Homo sapiens: one gene and its partner. The protein of the gene in region 1 purifies or fractionates together with the protein of each later gene. This does not show direct contact. Each region holds a gene or a part of one and is shown in the gene's direction. Other genes may lie near its edges.

The links.
Region 2: the proteins of FAM117B (region 1) and IMMP1L purify together in Homo sapiens (affinity purification with mass spectrometry; 2 studies listed by BioGRID and IntAct, with this or other methods). This does not show direct contact.

Annotation. Positions count from the first base shown.
Region 1 is NC_000002.12:202,721,666-202,725,504, forward strand, and holds part of FAM117B (protein FAM117B), read left to right. Parts: intron 1-3,251; coding exon 3,252-3,344; intron 3,345-3,839.
Region 2 is NC_000011.10:31,431,809-31,434,508, reverse strand, and holds the end of IMMP1L (mitochondrial inner membrane protease subunit 1), read left to right. Parts: intron 1-938; coding exon 939-1,049; intron 1,050-1,673; exon of another isoform or gene 1,674-1,940; coding exon 1,941-2,009; 3' UTR 2,010-2,108; downstream 2,109-2,700. UniProt on the Homo sapiens protein: Catalyzes the removal of transit peptides required for the targeting of proteins from the mitochondrial matrix, across the inner membrane, into the inter-membrane space. Known to process the nuclear encoded protein DIABLO.

The DNA of each region.
Region 1 (3,839 bases):
CTCTGACATCCAGGCTGGAGTGCAGTGGAGCAAGCACAGCTCAGTGCAGCCTCAACCTCCCAGGCTCAAGCAATCCTCCCACCTCAGCCTTTCAAGTAGCTAGGACTACAGTCGTGAGTCATGAGGCCCAGCTAATTTTTTACATTTTTTTAGAGATGAGGTCTCCCTGTGTTCCCCAGGCTGGTCTTGAATTCCTGGGCTCAAGTGATCCTGTAGCCTTGGCCTCTCAAAGCACTGGGATTAGCCATGCATAAGCATGAGCCGCTGTGCCTGGCCTGACATTATTCTTATAAATGAGGAATTTAAAAATTCATATAAGAGAAGCATCTTGTAAAGATACAATTTTTTTTTTTTTTTTTTTTGGAGATGGAGCCTCTCACTGTCGCCCGGGCTAGAGTGCAGTGGCGAGATCTCAGCTCACTGCAACCTCCACCTCCCAAGTTCAAGCGATTCTCCTGCCTCAGCCTCCCAAGCAGCTGGGATTACACGTGCCTGCCACCACGCCCGGCTAATTTTTTGTACTTTTTGTAGAGACGGGGTTTCACTATGTTGGCCAGGCTGGTCTCAAACTTCTGACTTCGTGATCCACCCGCCTCGGCCTCCTGGGATTACAGGCATGAGCCACCACGCCTGGCCCAAAAAATGTTATTTAACTGATCTGAAACTTAAACATGTTTGTTTAACACCAACATATGTGATTCTGAACCACGCATACTATGCTGCTTATTCACAATAGCAACGACATGGAATCAACCTAAATGCCCATCAACAGTAGCCTGGATAAGGAAAATGTGGTGCATATACACCATGGACTACTGTGCAGCCATAAAAATAAACAAGATCATGTCCTTTGCAGGAACATGGATGGAGCTAGAGGCCATTATCCTTAGCAAACTAACACAGGAACAGAAAACCAAATACTGCATGTTCTCACTTATAAATGGGAGCTAAATAATGAGAACACATGGACACATAGAGGGGAAGAGCAGATTCTGGGGCCTTCTAGAGGGTGGAGGGTGGGAGGAGGGAGAGGATCAGGGAAAATAGCTAATGAGTACTAGGCTTAGTACCTGGGTGACGAAATAATCTGTACAACAAACCCCCATGACACGAGTTTACCTGTTTACCTATGTAACCAGTACATGTACCCTTGAACTTAAAAATTAAAAAAAAAAAATTCATTTGTTAAGGTTTTAAATTTTATAGTATTAAGTTTATTATTTTGATTTTGGTTTTTGATTTTGATACTTTATGCTATATGGTCCTATTTACATGTTGATCTTTGTGACAGGTATTTTAACAATGGACTTAAAGAGCCTGTGGATCCTAATATGAGAAATTATAAGTACAGTAGGGGTCACCTCTGGGATGTGTGACATCAGTTGGTAACCTCAAAGTGAAACTGGAGTTTAGGGTGAAATAGGGCATAGAGTGGTGGGAAGTTGACCAAATTGTAGCCCTTCCTTTTGATTCAGTGTATTTAAGGATCCTTGTCAGAATGGAGTCCTTTTGGCTATAAGGAGAAGATCCAGACCTGGGACATGACTAATTAGAATCACAGTGTCTTCATTTTTGAAAACTTTTCCTTCCCCATTTGAAACTAGACCATTTTATAATTAGTAATTGGTACGTTAATAGTGCAAAAGATATTCAAACTGCACAGTATTTTTTGGTATTTTTTATTATTTCATGTACAAAATTCAGAAGGTACAGAAGGGTATACACTAAGGGTCTTTTTCCCCAGAGACAGCCACTGGTACCAATTTTCTTTGTTACCATCTATTTTCTTCCAGATATAATTTACACACACATGCATTCTTTTTAGCAGTCCCATATAAAGGCAGTTGCTATACACACGGTACTGAGCCTTGAGGTTTTTCACTTAACAGTATATCATGGAGATTATTTCATGTCTGTATATTGTGAATTTCCTTATTCATTTTTATAGCTGCACAGTACTCTGTTATAAAGGTATACCATAATTTATTTAGCCAAACCTAAATAAATCTAACTTACTTACATTGTTTCAGTCTTACTTGTAAGAACAGTGCTACAGGGAATAATAGGCAAGTCATTTTGTACATAAAGATGTGCATTTGGTATCTGTGCAGGATAAATTGTTAAATAAGGGGTTGCTGTGTCAGTTTGCGCATTTATAACTTTGACAGCAGGTGCTGAATATCCCCCCATAAAGGCTGTATGCTCCCACTAACAATATAGGAGAGTTTATATTAGCAAATTGCTCAATCTTGTTGAAGCTTTAACTTTCATTTCCCTTCTTATCAGTGAGGTTGAGCATAGTTTCATGTGCTAGGAACTCATTTGTATTTTCTTTCCCAATACACTTTTTAAATTCTGGGTTTGGTATAACTACTTAAGGTTTAACTTTTTTTTTTTTTTTTTTTTTTTTGAGACGGAGCCTCCCTCTGTCATCCAGGCTGGAGTACGGTGGCACGATCTCGGCTCACTGCAATCTCCACCTCCCGGGTTCAAGCGATTCTCCTGCCTCAGCCTCCTGAGTAGCTGGGATTACAAGCACACGCTAATTTTTGTATTTTTAGTAGAGACAAGGTTTCACCATGCTGGTCAGGCTGTTCTCGAACTCCTGACCTCGTGGCCTGTCCGCCTTGGCCTCCCAAAGTGCTGGGATTACAGGCGTGAGCCACCGCGCCCAGCCAGGTTTAACATTTTTGAAGCTGTTCTCTGAAGATACTTATGGCAAGACTAGACATAATATAGAAGTTAATATTACAAGCTCTGGAGTCTCAGGTTTATTTCTTGGCTTTGCCGCTTGTAACACCTTAGGCAACTTACATGTGTTAAGTCAGATAAAGCATATGAAAGCACAGTGCCTAGCACATAAGAGCACAAGAATGTTAGCTATTATTAGTGTGCCTGGTGCGTGCTAATAATAACTGACATTATTAGCTATTATATGTTAGTTAACTATGGTAACTCTAGTTATTATATATAGTTAACTTTGTTCCATAAATGCTTTATTTGTAGTATAATTATAATTATGTAAAAATACTAATTTTTTATTAGCAATAAAAATGAAGTATGCCAAAATATTAATTGTAATTAATACCAGTTAAGTAACTGGTGCCAGGAGAATTTTGAGTAATTTGTGTTAATTATTTTTAATGTCTAATTTTTTTGTAATGGAAATATGTTTTATAATAGAAAAATATGGTAGACATTGTTGTGAAATGATTTTTGTTAAATACACCTCCCCTCTTTTTTCATTACAGACAGAGAGTGCATGGGCTGAAGAATACTCTGAAAAGAAGAAAGGGTCTCACAAGCGCTCAGCATCTTGGGGCAGTACAGATCAACTTAAGGAGGTCAGAAAAATGGTTCTAAGATAGTGGGTGTGGAAATATGATCCTTTTGTTGGCTATTTCCTTGATATTATGGGCAGCAAGGATTTGTCGTTTTCCATTGATTTCTTTTTTCTTTTTGGCTTCTGAAATAACAAAAACAATTATTGTGTTGATTTAATAAAGATTTCAATAGGGATATTTATATATCACTTACCTGATTATGTATGTTTGTCTTTTTTTAGGAGAATTCATACCTGTCTATTAACATCAGATTTAAAAATTGTAACAATACAACAAATTCACATTTATTCTTTTTTTTTTTTTTTTGGGGTGTGCATGTGTGTGTGTGAGACGGAGTCTCGCTCTGTTGCCCAGGCTGGAGTGCAGTGGTGCGATCTTGGCTCACTGCAGGCTCTGCCTCCCAGGCTCAAGCAATTCTCGTGCCTCAGCCTCCCAAGTACCTGGGACTGCAGGTGTATGCCATCATGGCCAGCTAATTTTTGTATTTTCAGTAGA
Region 2 (2,700 bases), on another chromosome or scaffold:
CCTTCCCCATACATAGATCATTTTGGTCTGGTCAATAATTCAACTGTCTTAGATAACAAAACTGTAAAATAAAAACTTTTAAAAAGCAATTTTAAAGATTGTTGCTGGAAAGTAAGTTTTTTAGTTTACATTGAACAGAAATAGGCAAATGTCTCATATTGCAGGTGGCTTAAAAAAAACAATGTATTCTGTTCTAAATATGCTTATGATTGTCACTGAGTAAAAATCTTGTTATTTACCAGTTTATACATAGAACATTATAGGAGATAGTCTTTTCATTTAGGAGAAGGTCACCATCATTAATTTTACAACTGATGATTTTATAATAGGTCCTTCTGGTTCTTCATGGTCATTATTGAAGTATAATGCATTGAAGATATGGCCTGTACAAAGGCAGAACAGGGATGTTAATTAGAATTCTGACAAGCCTACTCCAATAAAATGATGAGATTATTTGTAATTGATGTCACAATCAATTACCATTTAGTTCATCATGAGCATTCTAATAGGTTTGGCTTTGGTATTGGCCCCAGGATGTTGCTGAGTGAGTGGCTGCCCTGCTTATACTGTTATTGAGACACAAGGGCGCATTTTCAGTCAGCATCCTAATGACCTCTTTTGAAGTCTATTAAATTAATGACCCTGTCACACTATTTTGATCTCTTATAACCTCAGTTTGGGGTTTGTATAACAAATTAATATTTGGGAACCATATGACAAAAAAAGATGATAGGTTTTTAAAAAAGTTGAAACCTTTGATATTTAGTAAAAGTTATTGTGCAAGAAATAAAAGCAAAAATGCAATATTAGGATTTGTATCTATTCTATAAAAGAGAGCCTTAGGACATTTCTCCCTACCTCTGAATGACATGCTTTTTAATTATAGTACCCAAATTAGGTTTTATCTTTAAGAGGCTGCATTTCTTCTCTAATTCTAGGTGCCAATGGGTCATGTTTGGTTAGAAGGTGACAATCTACAGAATTCTACAGATTCCAGGTGCTATGGACCTATTCCATATGGACTAATAAGAGGACGAATCTTCTTTAAGGTACCATTTTCTGCTTAAAATGTAAGGTTTATTTTCTGAGCTAGAAAAAGTTTCTCTCAAAATGATCTCTGAAATCTTCAAGCTGTCAGTGTACTTAACTGTTGCACCGAATATATTTTTTGAACCTGTTGGCCTTAACTTAATAGCCATATGCAAACCTATTCCCCCATTGCCCCTGCTCCCATAGAGATAATAATAAAATCCAAACTACCTTAGCTATAGCCTAAGAAAACTTTAATTTGAATTTCCAAAAGTTCAGTTCTCTCTTGTACAACTCTTAAAACCATGTTCACATCCTGCCCAGGGCATATTTTAATAAGCATGTGCAGAAGAACAGTCTAGATTCAAACTACCTGTAAAGTAGGGATACCCCAGTTGAGTACTGTGAGTCACAGACTTATTGTGAATGTATGATTATTAGGGAAGATTGTTTTCACTGGCCCCTCCTTTTTATCACAATCAGTGAGGAGAAAAACATTCATGAATACATGGAGCTGTTGGATAATTTACAGGATTCTTTACATTTAAAACAGATGCCATATTCAAGTACTTAAACCTAAGCCCCTTTGGTTGAAAGTACACAGTTAACTCTTACTTGCAAGTAGTAAAAGAAAACACAGACCATATATTCATACATATTTATTCACACACCACACACATATAATTTCATGTACATTGTTTGAATGTCCCAAACTTTGGAGTTTAAACATATATACACATAAGTTTATTTTCTCAAGTCTTACTTTGATGTAGAAAATTTTATTCTTGATTGATGAGTAAGGAGAAAGTGTTTATCTGGCATAGAGAAAAGGGACAGATAGCAAAAGGGAATATGATGATACTATAACATTACTTTCACTAATTGTCTTCAACCTCATTTTGATTTTACAGATTTGGCCTCTGAGTGATTTTGGATTTTTACGTGCCAGCCCTAATGGCCACAGATTTTCTGATGATTAGTAAGCATTTATTCTTTTGACTTGATTATTGTCTCCTTTTCATGTGAATTTATTACTCCCGTTGAAACCGTGTACTTACCAATAAACTATTTGCTATTCAGTTTTAGTTGTTTTTAATTGTTAAATGTAAAGAATATTCAACACACATTCTGCCAAGTTCTGTTAGTTCAAAATATATGGATAAAAATGTAACCCAAAAAAGTCATCTAAATTTTATGATACAAAAATATTGTGGGAGGGGGAACCTGGATGACTACCTCACTTTTGAATTCTTGTTCTTATAGGTATAATGAAACTAATCTATTCTTCTTAAATATACCTCATACTTTAGCAGCTACATTTACAAGTCAGAGTAGTAACTATTCGTATTTATAAGTTCAACCTGACAATGCCAGGTTTGATAAAAAGCTGCTAGTCTACATGCTCAGCCCACTCATTTGAAATTAAGTAAAAATGTTTCTAAAGGATCCCTTAAAGTTCTTTAAATGAGTTCTGACTTTTACTGTACACAAAATATTAAATACATAGAAAAATGCATCTTTAAGGCATATGCCATCTGTAGTTGGCTATAGTCAATAATACTTTATAAAAGTTCATTTCAGCATAGCAGCAGTGCAATGGCCCTGTCTTCATAAATACAGGCATTAATACTATATCTTTTTTTATTTATTTTATTTTATTTTTTTTGAGAC